Homo sapiens: one gene and its partners. The protein of the gene in region 6 interacts with the protein of the main gene of each other region in a biochemical or structural test. Each region holds a gene or a part of one and is shown on either strand. Other genes may lie near its edges. The genes, in order: MEF2A, FBXO7, MEF2C, CSRP3, SP1 and MYOG.

Region 1 (3,500 bases), on a different chromosome or scaffold from region 6:
GTGCCTTCTCTCCTAATGTTTAAATAATAAGTGTAAATATGGAAATCAGATCACCCTTTAAGCTGGATAACCTCGTGCAAGAGAATGCTTTTAACATATGCTGATTTGCAAGCCCCAGTAAAGGAAGGCTGCTTGACTCTGTAGTCAGATCTTGATTCAGATCCAGCTCCACTGCTGACAGAGTTGAGATATCTCCTGTAAAATGAGATAGAATTACACTACCTGCCCCGTGTTGGAATTAAATGAGATAGCGAGTGTAAAAGTTCTAACACACTGCGTGAAGCTTCATGTGCGAAAATGCGTATTGCCTGATCTCCCTGCATCCCTTCTGGCTTTTGTTTCTTCTTTCCTCTGAAGATTATGTAGGTACCCTGCCCAGTACCCATACGTTTAGTGTTTGTGACCAAAAGGATTTCGTATAATGTATCAATAGAGAATGCTTAATGTGTTTGTTTTGGATAAAATATCCCAGCATCTTAAATTCATTGTCAGATTATACATAAAACGCTTAATTGGCTGTTTTAAAACATTAGAATTTTGATCTTCAACCATAGTTTGTTTCTAATCTCCATAATCTCCCCAAATATTTTTCTAAAGATTCAAGTTAAATATAAATAGTTTCCCAATCTTCAGTGAATTCTGTCTTTTAGGGATTGACTGTGGGAGTGGTCTCTAAGATATAGTATTTGAAATTTAAAGTTAGAAGAATACTTCTGTAATCTACCTTGAATAGGTATTTTAAAATAGCTTAATTTCTGAAGAAAAGTTTTTAAATATTTTAATATTGAAGGTTATTTTAATATTTTAAAGTAACTTTAGTTAATCTGTAATTTTTAAAATACTTTGATTTGGTGTGAAATTAATGATTTTCTCGTGTATAGTTTATCTGTGTGCCTTATAATAAATGGACCTTGTGTCCAGTTTATTATAATTAAGAGTGTAAATCCATTTGTTAATTAGTAAATCTTACACATAGCACACGATATAGGTTGGTACTTATTTAATAAGTACTAAATTTTTATATAGATGCTTTATACTTTAATAATATTTATATTTACAGAATTTAATTGATATTTACTGAATTTAATATTTTAATTATTAATTATCTTAGTCGAGATGAAATCATAAGCATATGAGTTAAAAATATTAGCTCCTTTGTGAGGTGGAATACCATATTTAAACATTGGTGTATGAAGGCAGGTAATTTACTTCATCATTATTTTAACAAGTGATGTTGATAAAAGCCAGAGGAACAAACATGGGTGAAAAACATATTAATTAATCAAACTTCTAGTAAATACCAACCCGGGCATGTCTTTTTATGGTTGTCTTGAATTAATACTAATTTTACTTCCTTACACAAAAATACAAACTTCAAAAACAAAATAAACAAGAAAACATGAAAACATAAAAAGGAAACAAAGCAAAAACAAAACAAAAACCTTTAATATATGGACTTAAAAAAATTCTCACCATTATTAAAATTATATGCTTGAGAAAGGTTTTCAGTAGTGGTCAGTAAGTTTATACTGCATGAGCTGGACATTTTTACTTTGTTACTTGCGTGACCAGCAGCATGCATGTGCAGGTTGACGTGGATTCATTTGAGGCATGATTTGTGACACTTGGAACAAAGGGCTGCTTCCCATTCGACCTGGTAAAAGAAATTGTAACTTTTGGGCTTAATAAAACAAGCGGCTCTTGCATTGACTAATACTATATTTGCCTGTTTCACCTCTCGTCCTCATCCTTAGCTGTCCATCTTCTACATAGAAATTGGAATTATATTTCTAAAATTCAGATCTATATGTCATTTCTTCTTAAAGAAAAAAAAAAAAACAACTTTTGAAGGCGTATGAGATCAATAGAGTGGCAGTAATGTAAGGGATAGAAGATTGGCCTGTAAAATCAGACTTCCTGGCTGGGCGCGGTGGCTCATGCCTGTAATTCCAGAACTTTGGGAGGTGGAGGCGGGCAGATCACCTGAGGTCGGGAGTTTGAGACCAACCTGGCCAACGTGGTGAAACCCCGTTTCCACTAAAAATACAAAAATTAGCCGGGCATAGTGGCTCACACCTGTTATCCCGCCACTCTGGAGGCTTAGGCACGAGAATCGCTTGAACCCAGGAGGCAGAGGTTGCAGTGAGCCGAGATCGTGCCACTGCACTCCAGCCTGGGTGATAGAATGAGACTCCATCTCCAAAAAAAAAAAAACAACAACAACAACAACAGACTTCCCATCCTAAGTTAAAATACCCACTGTTCTTACTGTGTTCTTATTTAGTTACTTGCACTTTGTGTTCTTCAGCAAGTTCTTATGATTTTTGAGGCTTAGTGTATAAAATAGTAATTATAACATTATTTCATACAGTTTTTGAGAGGATTAAATGAGGTGTGTATTATAAAGTGCAGTGCCTGGTATATAACCTGCATTAATTTTCCTCCTACCATTACTATCGTTACTACTACTGCTATTGCTGTTAGTCATGGCTCACTTTATAATATGATTCCATCGTGTCTTTTGAGGCTCATTTTCAGCCATCACCTTTCAGTTTCTATGCCCTAGTCAAAGCCAGCTATTAGCGCTAATCTGAAAAGGCCATATGTTTTCATACTGATGACTACTACTTTTATTTTCCCAGCCCAGACTTCTCTTGAGTTTGATATTCACTTGGAAGTCTAGTTGGAATCTCAAGTATAATATAAATGATGTGGGTAAAATATAGCTATTTTTCCCTCTTCCCCCAACCTTCTTCCTACCCCTAAACCCTGGTGTCTCTGCTGGCATTCCCCATATCCATAAATGGCAGTACCCAAGCCAAAAACTTAAGATATTATTCTTGATTCTTTCCATTTCTCTTAAGTCCAATCCATCCCCACGTCCTGTTGCACCTTCACAATTTGCCTTGAGCAGTCCACTGCTCTTAGTCTTCGTTGCCACCTCTTTATTTGAAGCCATCATTCTCTTGCATGAAGTACTGCAGTAATTTTCTAAGTGGGCTGCTTCTTTTTCTTCTTGCTCCATAGAAGTTTTTTTTTTTTTTTTTTTCTTCACACAGCAGCCTGAGAATTATTTTAAGAGCCTATATTGGATCATATCATTTCTCTGCTTAAAATCTTCTGGTGACTTCCCATTCCTCTCAAAATCAAGTCCTCCATTCTGTGGCCTAAATGGCCCTGAATGAGCTTTCTCCTTCTCATCATTCTTCCCCTCATTCATCACATGTCAGCCACGAAGGCCTCTCAGTGTTTCTTAAACCCTCTGCACCCTTTTTTCTTCTAGGGCCTTTTGCACTTTCTGTACTCCCTCCTTGGGATATTCTTCAAATGTCTGGCTTGGCTAAACACTTTGGAGTTTGGCCCAAATCTCACTTCTCACTCAGAGGCCTAATCTGACCATCCTATTTAATATTGCAGTCTGTCATTTTACTCTCTTACACAGATTATTTCCTTCAAGACAATTGTAATTTGTGTATACCTGGTTTGTTTAGTTATTGCTT
Region 2 (3,500 bases), on a different chromosome or scaffold from region 6:
TTTATTGATGGTTAAGGGTGATCATTGCTGCTCTGTGCTACATGGTAATTCAATGCAGTGTGATTCCTCAGGGACTATGGAGGAACATGTGGCTACTCTCTTCCTGCATTAACTGGTCCTACACTACCTCTTCTCCCCCTAATCTCATTTAGGTGTGTCACCTGCTTCTAATCCAACATCTCACGTTACACCAAACTGGGCAACAACCTCTGAGCTTCTGTGTTACAGCCCACGTTCATTACTGGAGGTCAAGCTGACTTAGGCTTTCATCCATATTCTGGTTACACTACTTTCTCCCAACGATGTCCTGAATGACTCGGCTATCAGAAGCATGACCATAACTAAGTATTTTTTAATGTACTTATTTATTTGAAATATGTGAAATGAGGAAAGAGAAACCCATTCAACTTTAAGTATACAAAAGAGTTTGAATAAAAGATGATATCTTCTCTACAAGTTACTACATTAGCATGGAAGTAAGATTTATAAAAGCTCTAGCTCCGTAACATTTTATCTACAGAAAAATCTGAACAGCTTACAAATGAGCTTGTGGGCCACAATCTAAAAATTAAAGAATAATTGTGCTTTAATCCTAAACTTGAATATACAAGTGAAAGGGTATTTGTTGCTTTTATAAGTATTTATATCATACTCTGCTTTTTCTCGGTGCTTCCATATACATCAGTCATTCTGTCTTTTCTTTTTTTACTATATTTTCAATTCTTTTTTGAGTTGGAGACCAGCCTGAGCAACACTGCAAGACTTTGTCTCCACTAAAAACAAACAAACAAACAAACAAAAATTGGCCAGGTGTGGGGGCGCATGCCTACAGTTCTCAGCTACTTATGAGGCTGAGGAGGGAGGATCACTTGAGCCCAGGAGTTGGGGGTGGCAGTGAGCTATGACTGCGCCACTGCACTCCAGGGCAACACAACTAGACCCTGTCTCAAAAATACACAAATAAATAAAATTGAATTATTTTTTGAGATGATGCTTTCTTGCTGCCAATTGTGACAAAATAACATTTTAAATGTCAAATTCAGGGGCATAAATAAAGCAGAAAGAGGACCTCAGGAATCAAAGAAGAAGAAAAGGAACAAACCAGGTCATTTACACTTCTCACATTTTGAAATTTTAAAAGAAAAAAAAATTTTAGCAATCCAAATGACTCTACATGATATTCTTTTTTTTTTTTTTTTTTTTAAGGGAGCTATCTACCCACCACATTTTTACAGTTACTAAGGTGGTATGTGTTAACATCACATATAGCAGTATCATTCAAACATTTATGTGAACCACATAAAAATTTTACATTGCAACACAGTATACACCTACCTATACATAATTGAAATAGAAGTTTACTCCTATTTTATAAATAGGAATACTATTTATAAAATAAATATGGATTTTTCCATTGTGGGTTTTGTTTTTTTGTAACATGACCCATTAAATGGATTTCATGACCCACCCCAGGGTCAAACATTCTGAAAACACTAATATGTAGTAAAATGGTGGTAGCAGAAAAAAAAGTTCCACAATCAGGCTTTTGGCCTTGTAGCAGGAAATCCTGATGCACAAGTTCTACCATCATCACTGCCAAAATAATTACCAGGTCACCATAATGTGACCATACAGAAATAAAGCTACCCTAGCAACTTGGAACAGGTCAACAAAACTCTCCTAACTTACACATTGGTCTCAACCATGAAAGCAGTTCAGAAATGCCAGCTCGTTTCTACGTCAGATACTGACTATGGTCTCTAGTGAGAAAATAAGCCTGTTTTACTTCCATTTCTCTATCCTGAAATAATCTTCTTAGTCTAATGAGTGATTTGTGTTGTGCAAAACACAAAAATGAGAGAGTTTTAGGGACACAGGCACAGGTATATGAAGCTTAGAGTCAGTCTCTTTAAGGCTATTTATTGTAATCATTTGCAACAGAAAAATCCTACAACTAAAAACTTTTGGTGAGCTGAGTAATCAAGACAATAAGAGCCCTTTCTTGTGAATATGTCATTACGGAAATCACCTCGAAAATCACGCAGATATAAAAACCTCCACAGGAGTGGGTCATTTGAAGCAGTAAAGAGGTCACGACAAACCGCAGACAAAGACAAGACGGAACGAACATCCAGAAGTCGGAAGATCCGTAGTTTCAGTTCCAATGGGAGGACGACCAACCCAAATACATCTGGTAGGTTCAGTGCTAAAAGGAAAAAAAGAGAAGTAACAGGTATTACTGAGTAAAGAACATCTGGCTTTCTCCACATAGTCAACAAAGTTGCCACTTGTTCCTTTCTAAAGTGACAGAAAATTAGATGGTACTCTTAATTATCCCCAAGTATGCATCATCTACAACAAATTTTTAACCCCAGCTTGACTATAATTACTATTAACTCATATAACTCTAGGCCCTTATTCCCTTTATGTTTTAGTGGAAAGACAAATGCTTTTTAATATAAATCAAATAACTATGATAATTGCTAAATACTAGCCAATGGTCTCTTCTGTCTCAAACATTATTCAATACAACAAAATTTCTTCATTCAACTACAGAAAATGAATAATTCACTGGCTTTTATATCTGTTTCCATGCCAGTTATTAACTGTGTGCCTTTGGACAAGTTATTTAAATGCTATCTTAATTTCATCTGTAAAATGGATTAATATTACATTCCACCTACTTCAATGAGTTGTGAGAAGTAAATGTATTAACACATATTAAGTGCTTAGAACAATGTTTGGCACACCAAGCATAAGCACTCAAGTGTTAGCAAATTACTATTATCTGAAGTCTAGCAGGCTAAAAAGAGATAGATAAATTCAGAAACAAAGCCAAGAAAGGAAAGGAAAAATAATATGTCCCAAGTTCAATGAAAATTATGTTTTGGTTATTAGCACCTTCAAAATATTTGTGATACTATTCTCCACTAGCAAAAATAATCAAAATCCAACAGACATATCTACATGTTTTTCAATTGGCATTACTCCCTTTCCCTTATCACCAACTACAGAGAAGACTACTGTAATAATAGACATGCCACCATTCAACTTGACACCAAAAACGTTTTACTTATTTCTCTACATATAGAGAGCAAATAAAAGCCACTATCTATTCATATAAGTCAAACTACCTACTAGTTGGAGAATTGTGGTAGATTGTATTATGGTTCTCAATCACTTCCTACGCATAATTATACTTCCCCATCCCACCACCATCAGGCTTGGCCATTTTTGTCTTATTTTTTCTGACAAAACGTGAGTGGAAGTGACATATATAATTTCTGGGCAAAAGCGTTGAACCAACACATAATTGGGCCACTGGCACTCCTTTCCTTCTACTACAAGAGGAGCATGTCCTGGATAAAGACAACTCCTTCAGCCAAAGCAAACCCACACACAACATGTACACGAGTGAGAAGTAAATTTCACTGTAAGACACTGAGATTTTAATTTTTTTAACTGCAAAAAAATGAGAAGCTAATATAAGGATCTCGAGT
Region 3 (2,568 bases), on a different chromosome or scaffold from region 6:
AAACTGTAAACTTTAACAATTCCTTATCTATCACCACTCCTACCATTAATCTAACCATTTACTGAATTCTGACAATTTTCTCTCTCCTAAATCTTTCAATTACTTGCTTAAACCTAACTCTTTTAAATTTGCGATTATATAATCAGAGGCAAACTAACTCTTCCAGTCTTGTCTCACTGCTCCCCTACACACGGCTACACTTTACGTAAATAGAAAGGCCCACAATTCCTGTAAGTTTGTCTCTTGCTTTCCCATCTCTGTACCTTTGTATCTACTATTTCTTCCCTGTGAAATGCCCACATCCAGGGATGGTGTCATGATTCCAGGGCCCAGTGCAGAATGAAAATGTGGAAGTCCTTGTTGAAAAAGTGAAATAAAAGGTTCTCTCTGTTAAAGGTACTAAAATATAAAACAGTTCACTTTTTCCTGTGTATCTCTTCTGTTCAGGCACATGCTCTATTGTCCTACAGGACTTTGCTTACAACATTCAAACTCAAATATAAAATTATTAAGGATAATTTTATTATCAGGATATTATCAGGATAATGATAGCAGAACACTAAACGAAACACAAGCTAGGGCCATATGTGACTGCAGGGGTCACATGCCCACAAACAGCTTTGAACTCATCCCCTTCTGGGCCTTTCTCAATCCTGCCCACCTTCAAAATCAAGTGAAAGGCTTCTGCTGGGTGGATGAGGAAGTGTCCATGCTCTGAGCCTCTGGTCTGCTCTGCCCCAGGATGGCCAAAGTGGCTCCCTCATAGCACTTTGTAGACTTCCCTGAGAATGCCTTTTATCTCCTATTAGTTTATAAGTTTCCTAAGAGAAAGGGCTACAACTTCATTCATCCTGGAATCACCACATGAGTTACATATAATAATTGCTTAATACATGTTTGCTGAAAATGAATACAAGAGAACAAAGCAGAAAGCACTGCTATTTTGAAGCCACATGCAACATTTCCTCGAACTGCATTCTTTTTGGAGCAGATATCACTACTAATGCAAAAGTCCAAGTTCTCCAGCTGGCTAACTGGTGGTGTCTTGTTTTCCTTTTCAGTTTTTAAATTAATCTTTCTATCAATCTTTTTAAGGACATTCCCCTTTAGAGATTATTATTGAATGTTAATAATGGATATATTTGATAGTCTCTAAAATGTATGAATTCACTAATTTATTCAGATTTATAAGCCTATGTTTTCAACTTTTAGAAATTACTTCGAAGAAGAAAAAAGGAACTCTTTTGGAAACACTTTCTACAGATTTTAGTTAAAAAATAACTTATGGTACTGCTTTTCACAGTGGCTTTTGAAAAATTCTGTACATTTAAACAGGTTATCAAAGATCTTCATGGAACTTCTTTGATAAAGAAGTTGAACCATTCAATAAGAACCTTAGACTTCCACCACTGGCTGAATTCTGTAATACCCTAAGAACCGTCATCCAATTCACACCCCTCCCACACAGACACACATATCCATCTTTTCATATAATATTTTGAGTTGAAAACTGAGAAAGCTCATTTGTGCTTGTGGCATAAGCTGCTTTTTAAAAAACACAATAAAATTGAATAAATTTAAACAGCAAAACATTAATTTAAAAAAATGCACCACGGACACTGCATCACTAAGAAAGCCAGTAACTTTACTGAATTGTCTGCAAAATACAAATTATACCTTATTTCCAGCAGGAGAAACTTTTGAAAATTTCCCACTTTTATTCACTACAGACAGCTGAATTAAGTCCCTTGAGATACACAGATGTGGTTTAACTTAGTTATAACATCTTGTCATCTAGTGGCGACAAAGTCCAGCTTATGCCGCTGTGAGCCTCTATTTGAATATTTGTTGCAAATGCTTGTATGCCCTCATTTACAAGCGATTTTAATTACTCTCATTTAATGGAAACAAGTCCCCAGGAAAAGAAAAAGAAGAAAAATGATACAGCAAACCATCTGAAGCAATCCAAGTCCTATGCCTACAGTGACCCAGGTCTACTTTGCTCGAAGAGAACACTGGTACTGCATTCAAACCACAACAGAATCCGTCACTTAACTGACCTCTCTGAATTAAACTGAGGTATGAATCAATTTGAGGTATGAACAGGGAAGGCAAAATGCAATACCAGATTATGAAAATAACCAAAATGGAAAAATTTGATGTAGAAGATATGTGGCTTGGATTGCTCCACATCTTTGGTTAAAACATATTAAGAAAAGCCTTTAATTACATCTGTAGTCTGAAGCATTCTAACAGACACCAGTATTCCAGCAATCTTCAAAAGATCTGTAGTGGCAGGAAATTAACGCCATAAAAGTGACGACATCACGGCAGATGGCACAAATGAGAACAGATGAAGTATGCCATGCTTAGGCAACAGCCTTTATTGAGGGTTCAAGTGGCTTCTTCTTCTTTAAAAAAAATGTTTTTTAAAGAAAGAACTACAAAGCGTTTACTCTCTGGAGAAACAAACAACAAAATAAAGAGGGCAAAAAATGCTATCTCTAAGTTAAAAGATGGGTATGTAAGAAAAACAAATCCATAAAAGTGTGTGAGGGCAGACATTCT
Region 4 (3,500 bases), on a different chromosome or scaffold from region 6:
ACATTTGTGGACTCCAGACTCTTCCCACAGATGGCACAGCGGAAACAGGTCTTGTGCCAAGGCTGAGGGGCACAGAAAAGTTGCATATTTAATGAGGTAGGCAACACATTCTGTTTCCATTTCAAGTCCCTGACCAGCAGCATCCAGAGGAGTGACACGTCTTAACCATTTGCTTACCTAATGGGCCCCATAATTTCTCCAGGGGTTTGGAGAAAATGAGATGCTATGGCCTTAGCCAGCACTTCTCAGAAGCCTGAAAATGGATTTGTCATGGTGATTTGCATATGTTTTCCTTCAGAATAGACTAAACGGGAAAGGGCTTCCCCAGGCCAAAAAGATCCAAGGAACAAACTGGTCAGAGAAGGACTTGGGCTGGGGGCACTGGGTGATGTTTATGTTGAGTATAAAGTTACAGAAGGAAAAAAAATAAAGAAATCAGGCAATTGTTCAGGGAATTCAACCTTGTTTTAACTCTCTGGTTTAATTCCTCTGTGTAATTCTGAGGCAGAGTTGCATAATTTCGATGTTCTAGATCTCCATCCTCCTGCACATCTGCGTGTCTACCAGGTACAGCCCAGGGCTTCTCCTATGTCTTCAAATGGCCAGTTTTAGGGTGGAGCCTGCCCTTGTGTTTGAAGTTAGATGCTCCCCACGGCCCTTCCTCCCACCATGTGGTATAAACATAATTTTTCTCTTTCCTCAGGTCTGACTCCTTTGGTGAGTACCCAGGCTTTGGGCCTGAAACTGGAACTTGCAGAGCACATATGCATGAGTGTCTCGGACATCTGATGACTTTCCTGAGAGCCAGGAAGTTCGTAAGTGAGGATGCTTCTCACTACTGTGAGGCGTCTGCTATATCCATTGGTCATGGTGGCAGCAACAGGTTGAGTTAGGCAGTGGTTGGTCTGGGGCTGACATCTTTTGGGGGGATTGTGGACACTGGAGGGTAGACGGGCTTTTGCTTTGTATCCCAGAACTTTCAGCTGGGTGCCTTCCATCTAGTAGAATAATGCTTGCTGCTTCAAACTGCACCAGTTCCAGCTTTCAAAGGGCAATGCTAGATGACAGACAGCCCCAGCCTGGGAAAGTGGCTGAGGATGTGTGGTTTCTAAAGTTGTTCTGGGAGCTAGAGAGAATGACAGCTGCTTGCAGCTCCCAATTTTTCTCTCATTCCTCCCAAATGGCCTGGTGGAGATGAGCAAATTCTGTCTGGCTCATACAGAAGGTCTTACCTTGCCACCTCCCATAACCTTCTCAGCAGCATAGACTGACTTGCCACATCGAGGGCACTTCTCGGACTCTCCAAACTTCGCAGTGAATTTGGAAGGGTTGCTGGTGGTAACTGAGCGTGCCGGCTTTGGGGACCTGTTGGAAATAGACGAATGAATGAAACGTAGATTTCCCTTGGCAAAGAGTAGAAGAGCTGTGTGGCCTTGAGAAAGTGACCTCACTTCCGTGTGTCTCAGACTCCTCATCTGGAAAATGGGGATAATGATGGTGTCTTTCTCATAGCGTTGTTGAGAGGGTTAAATGAGGCGACATTTGTAAAGCACTTAGAACAGTGCCCGCCTGGCATGTAGTAAGGGCTAATAAATGTTTGCTAAAATGGGTTTAGAGCTTTCCTTTTTGTTGTGAAGCACTTAGCAAATGTTCTAGTTATGTTAGCTTGTGTTATTGTTGTTGTTGTGTTGTTATTACTACTGTGCTTATTTGTGTTTTTCTGGACCATTTGCAAGGCCACTTCTTTCCTTTCTAAAGAGAGTTGTGAAAATTACAGAGCAAGGTGGGATTTTGACAATGGGTGCTAATCAGTTCCTGATGAACCACAGTCCATGAGCTGATGCATTCCTTATCACAAGCCAGGCTGTCGTCCTGCCTCCAAGGGTCACCTGTCCCAGGAGAACAATGTCCAAAATAGAGACATAATAATAGCCTCTCATGTGTTGGTATCTTTTGGTGTTTGCTTGTATATTATATCACTTGAGCTGTACCACAACCCTATAAGGTAGGCAGGGCTGGTTGGAGGAGAGTGAGGATCAGAGTGTGACTGCCCAAGGCCAGGCAGCTCATGAATGATGGACCTAGGAGGAAATCCTAGGTCTTCAGACCTTGTTACTCTTTGTGCAGCATCACTAGGAAGCCCTAATGTTGAAAAGTGAACTTCAGTCAATGTGAGGCAGAGAATGCAGTGGTATGTTTTCTTCCTTAACAAGAGTCTCCATTTGAGATTGAGTAATAAGACAAACTAACAAAAAGAAGTCTTCTCTCTAAGATGACTAATCACACATCTCTCCACGTTTCCATGCTCTCCTGTGGCTTACTCTCTTTTGAAGGGATCAGCTGATTCCTCAGATGGCTGAAGTGCTCTCTGGGGGAGGCCCTCCATGGGACACTTCCTTGGTTGGGCTGGGCCTTTCTGGCCAGTCGCAGTGCAGAGCTCAGCCTGGAGGCCAGCTGGCCAGAGAGTAGTGTCAGGCCAGTGGCCATCAGACTTTCCTCAATTCTGGGCTGGAGGTCAATGTGGTTATCAAGAAAGTGGACCCAGGGGACCAGACTGGTGGATGGAGGTGGCCAGAGTGATGTCCCAGCTTCCCTAGGATAATGTGGCGGGAACTCTAGCACTGTATTGGCAACAGGCAGCCAGGGAACCCCCAGAAAAATCATGATTGATTGTTTACTCTGAGGCACAGCCCATCCTTGCAGACACACTCCCCCTGCCATGTGGACGTTTGTCATCTTACAATCCAAGGGAAGAAATCTTTTCATGACAGGCACACAAAGAATGGCCATTGCTGCCCTGCCATATTTGTGTGATTTACACAGAAACTCTCAACGGGGAAGAAAGGAGACTCCATGCAGTTTTGCAAAGGTCAAACAATGGAACATCTGTACATCCTGGGTTTTCTCTTGACATGCAAACCAAGAGCCATGGTGTAAAAGTAATTGCCCTTTAGAATGGCAAATAATTTAAAGAGAGTCTTTGGAGAGATGACACATTGTTCAAACTTGGTCAGACTGAGTATTCCTATTGTTGGCAAGTCAACAATAGAGTCCATTCTCCCACTTCCAGAAAACGTTGCTATGGGAACGAAATGAACTGTCCTGATAATTGGAGACTTTAACAGGCAAGGGGGAGCAGGGCAGTAACTCACTGTTGGAACTGCAGGCCGAGATGCTCGCCCGTGTCTGTGCTGAGACAGCCAGCGCCTTGTCCATACCCGATCCCTTTGGGGCCATATCTGCGCCCATAGCACACCTTGCAGTAGATCTCCGACTCATGAGCCGCGACTGTCGTGCTGTCAAGAGCCTTCCTGCAGGCCACTGCCAGGAAAAGGAAGGGTCATGGGATTGGAATTGAAATCCTTCTCCCCTTCTTTGCACTCCCAATGCCATGCTCGGGGCCAGAGACCCAGCATGAGGGGCCCCTGAGCCAAGAATACAATGTTGATTCCTGACCAGAGTATCTGCCCTGAGTTGTGCACTCCAAGACAGTCCCGATC
Region 5 (3,500 bases), on a different chromosome or scaffold from region 6:
TGTTGGCAAGACGGGCAATGCCCTCTGGACAGATGGCCTCCATGGCTACCATATTGGTGGTAATAAGGGCTGAAGGAGTGGCAGTGCCACTGCCTTCTGAACCTGCCCCACTGTCCAGGGGCAAAGTGCCCACACTCAGAGCTACACCTGGGCCTCCCTTCTTATTCTGGTGGGTCTTGATATGTTTTGACAGGTGGTCACTCCTCATGAAGCGCTTAGGACACTCAGGGCAGGCAAATTTCTTCTCACCTAGGTAAAGGAAGAAAAGATAAGAAGCTGACATGTTAGGAAGTGAGGTTACCTTACCCAATTCAGTGCTTACTCTACTAAGCTGAGTAAGGCCAGTATGAGAAGGTGATCAAAAACAAGAAAAATCTTCAAGTGGCTGGGCGTGGTGGCTCACGCTTGTAATCCCAGCACTTTGGGAGGCCAAGGCGGGCAGATCACGAGGTCAGGAGATCAAGACCACGGTGAAACCCTGTCTCTACTAAAAATACAAAAAATTAGCCGGGCGTGGTGGCGGGCGCCTGTAGTCCCAGCTACTCGGAGAGGCTGAGGCAGGAGAATGGCGTGGACCCGGGAGGCGGAGCTTGCAGTGAGCCGAGATCGCGCCACTGCACTCCAGCCTGGGCGACAGAGACTCTGTCTCAAAAAAAAAACAAAAAACAAAAAACTTCAAGTATATTTTCCTTTTGGCGGGGGCGTGAGGAAGAAAACTAGATAAAGGTTGGGGAGTACTCGGTAAGGAAGGTAGAACTTAGCAGTTTTAAAAGTAAGGCAGGGCAGAGACTAAGAGTAATGGTTTCAATGCTTCACCTTCAAAAATCCCACTCAAAATCTAGCTCCTTATTTTATTTTATTTTATTTTTTTGAGACAGAGTCTTGCTCTGTCGCCTAGGCTGGAGTGCAGTGGCACAATCTCAGCTCACTGTAACCTCCGCCTCCAAGGTTCAAGCAATTCTCCTGCCTCAGCCTCCTGAGTAGCTGGGATTACAGGTGTGCACCAGCACGCTTGACTATTTTGTAATTTTAGTAGAGACAGGGTTTCCCCATGTTGGCCAGGCTGGTCTTGAACTCCTGACCTCAAGAAATCCACCCACCTCGGCCTCCCAAAGGGCTGGGATTACAGGCATGAGCCACGACACCTGGCTCCTTCCTTTTTTTTTGAGACAGTGTCTCGCTCTGTCGCCCAGGCTGGAGTGCAGTGGCACGATCTTGGCTCATTGCAAGCTCCGCCTCCCAGGTTCATGCCACTCTCCTGCCTCCACCTCCTGAGTAGCTGCAACTACAGGCGCCTGCCACCATGCCCGGCTAATTTTTTTGTATATTTAGTAGAGACGGGGTTTCACCATGTTAGCCAGAATGGTCTCGATCTCCTGACCTCGTGATCTGCCCGCCTCGGCCTCCAAAAGTGCTGGGATTACAGGCGTGAGCCACTGCACCCAGCCCCTCCTTCCTTCTTAAAAATTTTCCAGATTAACTCCAATTCCATTTGTGACCCATATATTCAGTTTCAAATTAAGTTGCTCAGAAATTTTAGTTATTTTGTAGGTATATTTTGTGTTTTTCATTCTAGTCTATTACTATTTTTCTCTCCCATAGGCTCTTGCTCACCTGTGTGTGTACGTTTGTGCCTCTGTAGCTCATCCGAACGTGTGAAGCGTTTCCCACAGTATGACCAGGTACACATAAATGGCCTCTCGCCTGTATGCCAGCGCAAGTGTGCCCGCAGGTGAGAGGTCTTGCCATACACTTTCCCACAGCCTTGGATGTGGCAAATATGCTGTTTCTTTTTGCCAGGATCCCCCGAGCCCCTGAAAGTGAGGACACAACTGTTAATCATTCATTCTAGAGAAAACTAAAGAACCACAAAGTATCAACAGCAATCACCCAATCGACACCAAACTAACCCAAACTTTTATTTTTTGAAAAAGTCTTCTTTTTTGTTTTTTTGAGAGAGTCTCACTCTGTCGTCCAGGCTGGAGTACAGTAGCATGATCACGGCTCACTGCAACCTCCGCCTCCTAGGTTCAAGCGATTCTCCTGCCTCAGCCTCCCGAGTAGCTGGGATTACAGGTGCACACCACCATGCCCAGCTAATTTTTATATTTTTAGTGCAGATGAGGTTTCGCAATGTTGGCGAGGCTGGTCTCGAACCCCTGAGCTCAGGTGATGGATCTGCCCACCTCCGCCTCCCAAAGTACTGGGATTACAGGCGTGAGCCACTGCACTGGACCAAGGCTTCTTTTTTTTGTTCGTTTGTTTGTTTTGAGACGGAGTCTCGCTCTGTCGCCCAGGCTGGAGTGTAATAGCGCAATCTTGGCTCACTGCAACCTCCACCTCCCGGGTTCACGCCATTCTCCTGCCTCAGCCTCCCGAGTAGCTGGGACTATGGGTGCCCGCCACCACACCCGGCTAATTTTTTGTATTTTTAGTAGAGACGGGGTTTCACCATGTTAGCCAGGATGGTCTCGATCTCCTGACCTTGTGATCCACCCACCTCGGCCTCCCAAAGTGCTGGGATTACAGGCGTGAGCCACCGCACCCGGCCAAGCCTTCTTTTTTAAAAAGGTTTCTAGGGGCTGGGAGTGATGGCTCACGCCTGTAATCCCAACACTTTTGGAGGCCGAGGCAGGTGGATTGATCACCTGAGGTCAGGGATCCGAGACCAGCCTGGCCAACATGGCGAAACCTCATCTGTACTAAAAAATACAAAAATTGTTCAAGACCAGTCTTATCAACATGGTCCCCATCTCTACTAAAAATACAAAATTAGCCAGGCGTGGTGGCACATGCCTGTAATCCCAGCTACTTGGGAGGCTGAAGCAGAGGAATTGCTTGAACCTGGGAGGTGGAGGTTGCAGTGAGCCGAGATCGTGCCGTTGCACTCCAGCCTGGGCAACAAGAGCGAAGCTCTTTTTTTTTTTTTTGAGACAGAGTCTCACTCTGTCGCCCAGGCTAGAGTGTAACGGCACGATCTCGGTTCACTGCAACCTCCACCTCCCAAGTTCGAGCAATTCTCCTACCTCAACCTCCCAAGTAGCTGGGATTACAGGCACCTGACACCACGCCGGTTAATTTTTGTACTTTTAGTAGAGATGGGGTTTCACCATGTTGGCCAGGCTGGTCTTGTACTCCTGACCTCAGGTGATCCGCCCGCCTTGGCCTCCCAAAGTGCTGGGATTACAGGCGTGAGCCACCGTACCCGGATGAAGATCTGTCTTAAAAAAAAAAAAAGGCCGGGCGCCCCCATGGCTCATGCCTGTAATCCCAGCACTTTGGGAGGCCAAGGCAGGCGGATCACAAGGTCAGGAGATCGAGACCACCCTGGCTAACACGGTGAAACCCCGTCTCTACTAAAAATACAAAAAATTAGCTGGGCGAGGTGGCGGGCACCTGTAGTCCCAGCTACTAGGGAGGCTGAGGCAGGAGAATGGCGTGAACCCAGGGGGCGGAGCCTGCAGTGAGCCAAGATTGTGCCACTGCACTCCAGCCTGGGC
Region 6 (4,212 bases):
AGATTGCAGCCCAAAGCTACACGTCAATGGAACGGGCTGTCTCCTGACGTGAGCAGAAGCTGAACAGTAGCCGCCTCGGAGGAGATTTGGGCATCAGGGGCTAGGTAGAAAGAGGTGATCACCGTTGTCTATCAGATGGTAAGTTCGAGGGCAGGGATCCTGTCTGGGGTGTCCCTATAATCCCCAGCCCTAAGACTGAGCCTTGTTCACTGCTAGTGTCTAAGGTCTGCCCACTGCATTGGAAGGAATTTGTCCTCTCAGACCCTGAGGCACCTACTGAGAGGTGACCATGGCCTGAGAGGCCTGAAGATTAAATAGTCCCTGCTCTACCTGACATTTGAGACCTGCATGATACGTGTAAAATTGATGGCTCAGACAGTAAGAGGCAGAACAACCAAGCCCGGTGGCCAAGGAGAGAGGAGATTTAAACTGAGTTTGAAGGGCTCTGTTTTTTCTACTTTTTCACCCCCGTCCACATTAATGAGCCAGGAAAATTCTGGTGTTGGAAAAAGAGTTGAGGAGGTAACATAGAAGGACAGATCAATGGTCCGGAGTGAGACAGGGAGGAGACAGGGAGCTTAGGACATCTTGACCTTGCCGCTCTGGGGAAGGTGGCAACGTGTAGGCTGTAAATTCTAATCTCTGCTCTGACCACGGCTGCTGTATTAAAGAGGAAATTTCTCTTTACCCCTGCCAAGAAAACCAAAACCCAAATAATTTCTCTTGCCTCAATTTACCCCCCCAGATGAGACCTAAGAGAACATACAGCTCAAAGCTGCTTGGGAACCCCAAAAGTGGAATCTGTTAGCTGCTCTGAGTCTTGATCCTTCTTATCCCTGGATACTGAGTGCCCATGAATGCCCAGAATCTGAAGCAGTCCCATTCTTTCCGGAGGGAAGTCTTTAAAAGAGTCTCATCGACTGATGTAGTGTGGTTAAGGTGCTGTCAGGAAGCAAGGAGATGGATAAGTTGGCTCTTAAGGCCCCTTCCAGCCTAAGCCTACCCTTCCTTGTTCCCTCCTCCCCCTATACCCACCAGCTTCTTCGGGACTGCAAGGAGACAGCAGGCAGGCCGCCCAGCTAGGAGTAATTGAAAGGAGCAGATGAGAGGGGAATGTGTCCTCCCCCAACGCCCCTGCCCCACAGGGGCTGCTGAGAAATGAAAACTAATCAAATTACACCCGACGGCCTCCCGACCCGTGCACAGGAGCCCGCCTGGGCCAGGGGCAGGCTGGCAGGGTGGGGTGGGGGCCATGCGGGAGAAAGAAGGGGAATCACATCTAATCCACTGTAAACGCCTTGATGTGCAGCAACAGCTTAGAGGGGGCTCAGGTTTCTGTGGCGTTGGCTATATTTATCTCTGGTTCCATGCCAGCGGGGAGGGTTTAAATGGCACCCAGCAGTTGGCGTGAGGGGCTGCTGGAGCTTGGGGGCTGGTGGCAGGAACAAGCCTTTTCCGACCCCATGGAGCTGTATGAGACATCCCCCTACTTCTACCAGGAACCCCGCTTCTATGATGGGGAAAACTACCTGCCTGTCCACCTCCAGGGCTTCGAACCACCAGGCTACGAGCGGACGGAGCTCACCCTGAGCCCCGAGGCCCCAGGGCCCCTTGAGGACAAGGGGCTGGGGACCCCCGAGCACTGTCCAGGCCAGTGCCTGCCGTGGGCGTGTAAGGTGTGTAAGAGGAAGTCGGTGTCCGTGGACCGGCGGCGGGCGGCCACACTGAGGGAGAAGCGCAGGCTCAAGAAGGTGAATGAGGCCTTCGAGGCCCTGAAGAGAAGCACCCTGCTCAACCCCAACCAGCGGCTGCCCAAGGTGGAGATCCTGCGCAGTGCCATCCAGTACATCGAGCGCCTCCAGGCCCTGCTCAGCTCCCTCAACCAGGAGGAGCGTGACCTCCGCTACCGGGGCGGGGGCGGGCCCCAGCCAGGGGTAAGTGGCCATCCCATCCCCCTGCCCCAAGGGGACGGGGCCAGAGGGAGGCACCTGGACAGCCTCAAGACCCCAAGAGGGGCTCAGAGGGTTGGTGCAGGTGCCAGACAGGGTCGAGGGGCTGCAGGAGCCCTTCCCTGGTCAGAGCTGGGCTATCCAGCTGACCTCCTGTGTCCTGTGTTCTTTCCAGACAAGATAAAGGCAGTGGGGAGGAAGTGCAGAAGGGGTTGGGGTGGGGAACATAGGACTGAAGAAAGATCAGGAGCAAGGCCACAGTCAGCCCAGGTGAGGGTGAGGATTAATCCCAGCGCCTGAGTCAGAGCCTAAAAGGCCAGGCCAAGTTCACCAGAGAAGACTGCTTTGCCCCCATCCTGGGTGTGGCTGAGCAGAGAGAAAACCCACTCAGTCTCATTGGAACTCCAGCAGGCCTGCACAGAGCGACCTTCACTGGGCCACAAAATCTGTCTCCATCACCCTTATCGCCAGAGTCAGGAGAACCAGGGACCCCTTTAAGCTGGTGTCCTGTGAGAGCAGAACCACCACCCAGGATGGAAGCCAGGAAGGCCTGGAAGCAGGGCCTCTGGGGTGTGAGAGGAGCTAGTTACAAAGATTCTGGGGTTGGGGATGGCCTGGGCTGGAAGGCCACAGCCTGTGGCCCACCCTCCAACCCCACCACAGGTACTTCTGCCCACTGGGACTAGGCAGAGAGAGACATCAAAGAATGGCTGTGCCCCGACCTTGGGCCTTCGCCCTGTCTTGCAGGTGCCCAGCGAATGCAGCTCTCACAGCGCCTCCTGCAGTCCAGAGTGGGGCAGTGCACTGGAGTTCAGCGCCAACCCAGGGGGTAAGTAAGGCCTGACTGGTAACCTTGGCTCCAATCCCTCAGTCCCTCCCTGGGCCAGGTTCTCCCCTCTTACCTTATTCCTTGCTCCGGTCCTCTTCCCTTGGGTCTCTCTAGGGACCTGCTGACTCCAAGGCCCAAAGGGTGGGCTGGGAGGTTCTGTGTGCCCCTGCAGTCTTGACCAGCAAAGGAGTGATAGTAGCTCCTGCAGCTCCCCAGCTGATGCCTGGTGGTTGACCTTCTCCACAGAGAGGACAATGTCCCTGCCCCAGGGGTCCCTGTGAAGTGCTGAGTCAGTGCTGCAAAACTGGGCCGAGCAAAGGGCAGGTCCAGTCTCTGGGGAGCTCCATCCTGCTCCAACTTGAGTGGCTGCTTCCAAACCCTACCTACTAGGGGAGTTCAGAAAAGAGGCGCATACACACACACACACACACACACACACACACACACACACTCACAGAGCATGGGGAAAGGCAGGGACTAGGGAGTAGAACTCCGGAGCTTTGTCATTCATCTGTCCTGGAAAACCTCTGTCACCCCAAGGGTCCCATCCTCTATTCTGGGCCTCAAGAACCCCCACTGCTCACCCAGGTACCACCTTCCCACCTCCCCTTACAGATCATCTGCTCACGGCTGACCCTACAGATGCCCACAACCTGCACTCCCTCACCTCCATCGTGGACAGCATCACAGTGGAAGATGTGTCTGTGGCCTTCCCAGATGAAACCATGCCCAACTGAGATTGTCTTCCAAGCCGGGCATCCTTGCGAGCCCCCCAAGCTGGCCACAGATGCCACTACTTCTGTAGCAGGGGCCTCCTAAGCCAGGCTGCCCTGATGCTAGGAAGCCAGCTCTGGGGTGCCATAGGCCAGACTATCCCCTTCCTCATCCATGTAAGGTTAACCCACCCCCCAGCAAGGGACTGGACGCCCTCATTCAGCTGCCTCCTTAGAGGAGAGGGCATCCCCTTTCCAGGGAGGTAAAGCAGGGGACCAGAGCGCCCCCTCGTGTATGCCCCAGCTCAGGGGGCAAACTCAGGAGCTTCCTTTTTATCATAACGCGGCCTCTAATTCCACCCCCCAAGTGAAACGGTTTGAGAGACGCAGTGCCCTGACCTGGACAAGCTGTGCACGTCTCCTGTTCTGGTCTCTTCCCGATGCCAGTGGCTGGGCTGGGCCTGCCCTGAATTGAGAGAGAAGAAGGGGAGAGGAACAGCCCTCTGTTCCCAAGTCCCTGGGGGGCCAAACTTTTGCAGTGAATATTGGGAACCTTCCAGTGGTTTTATGTTTTGTTTTGTTTCGTGTGTTGTTTGTAAAGCTGCCATCCGACCAAGGTCTCCTGTGCTGAAGTTGCCGGGGACAGGCAGGGAAAAGGGGTTGGGGCCTCTTGGGGGTGATTTCTTTTGTTAACAAAGCATTGTGTGGTTTTGCCATTGTT

What was found.
Region 1: the proteins of MYOG (region 6) and MEF2A form a complex in vitro, tested with the Homo sapiens proteins (one study listed by BioGRID).
Region 2: of the proteins of MYOG (region 6) and FBXO7, one has a biochemical effect on the other in vitro, tested with the Homo sapiens proteins (one large-scale study listed by BioGRID).
Region 3: the proteins of MYOG (region 6) and MEF2C form a complex in vitro, tested with the Homo sapiens proteins (one study listed by BioGRID).
Region 4: the proteins of MYOG (region 6) and CSRP3 form a complex in vitro, tested with the Homo sapiens proteins (2 studies listed by BioGRID and IntAct, with this or other methods).
Region 5: the proteins of MYOG (region 6) and SP1 form a complex in vitro, tested with the Homo sapiens proteins (one study listed by BioGRID).

Annotation. Positions count from the first base shown.
Region 1 is NC_000015.10:99,568,984-99,572,483, forward strand, and holds part of MEF2A (myocyte-specific enhancer factor 2A), read left to right. Parts: intron 1-3,500. UniProt on the Homo sapiens protein: Transcriptional activator which binds specifically to the MEF2 element, 5'-YTA[AT](4)TAR-3', found in numerous muscle-specific genes. Also involved in the activation of numerous growth factor- and stress-induced genes.
Region 2 is NC_000022.11:32,491,811-32,495,310, reverse strand, and holds part of FBXO7 (F-box only protein 7), read right to left. Parts: intron 2,207-3,500; coding exon 2,030-2,206; intron 1-2,029. UniProt on the Homo sapiens protein: Substrate recognition component of a SCF (SKP1-CUL1-F-box protein) E3 ubiquitin-protein ligase complex which mediates the ubiquitination and subsequent proteasomal degradation of target proteins and plays a role in several biological processes such as cell cycle, cell proliferation, or maintenance of chromosome stability.
Region 3 is NC_000005.10:88,716,617-88,719,184, forward strand, and holds the end of MEF2C (myocyte-specific enhancer factor 2C), read right to left. Parts: 3' UTR 501-2,568; downstream 1-500. UniProt on the Homo sapiens protein: Transcription activator which binds specifically to the MEF2 element present in the regulatory regions of many muscle-specific genes. Controls cardiac morphogenesis and myogenesis, and is also involved in vascular development.
Region 4 is NC_000011.10:19,184,984-19,188,483, forward strand, and holds part of CSRP3 (cysteine and glycine-rich protein 3), read right to left. Parts: intron 3,322-3,500; coding exon 3,153-3,321; intron 1,366-3,152; coding exon 1,233-1,365; intron 63-1,232; coding exon 1-62. UniProt on the Homo sapiens protein: Positive regulator of myogenesis. Acts as a cofactor for myogenic bHLH transcription factors such as MYOD1, and probably MYOG and MYF6.
Region 5 is NC_000012.12:53,407,676-53,411,175, reverse strand, and holds part of SP1 (transcription factor Sp1), read right to left. Parts: intron 1,815-3,500; coding exon 1,615-1,814; intron 250-1,614; coding exon 1-249. UniProt on the Homo sapiens protein: Transcription factor that can activate or repress transcription in response to physiological and pathological stimuli.
Region 6 is NC_000001.11:203,083,213-203,087,424, reverse strand, and holds the start of MYOG (myogenin), read left to right. Parts: upstream 1-1,412; 5' UTR 1,413-1,463; coding exon 1,464-1,934; intron 1,935-2,696; coding exon 2,697-2,778; intron 2,779-2,851; exon of another isoform or gene 2,852-3,053; intron 3,054-3,393; coding exon 3,394-3,515; 3' UTR 3,516-4,212. UniProt on the Homo sapiens protein: Acts as a transcriptional activator that promotes transcription of muscle-specific target genes and plays a role in muscle differentiation, cell cycle exit and muscle atrophy.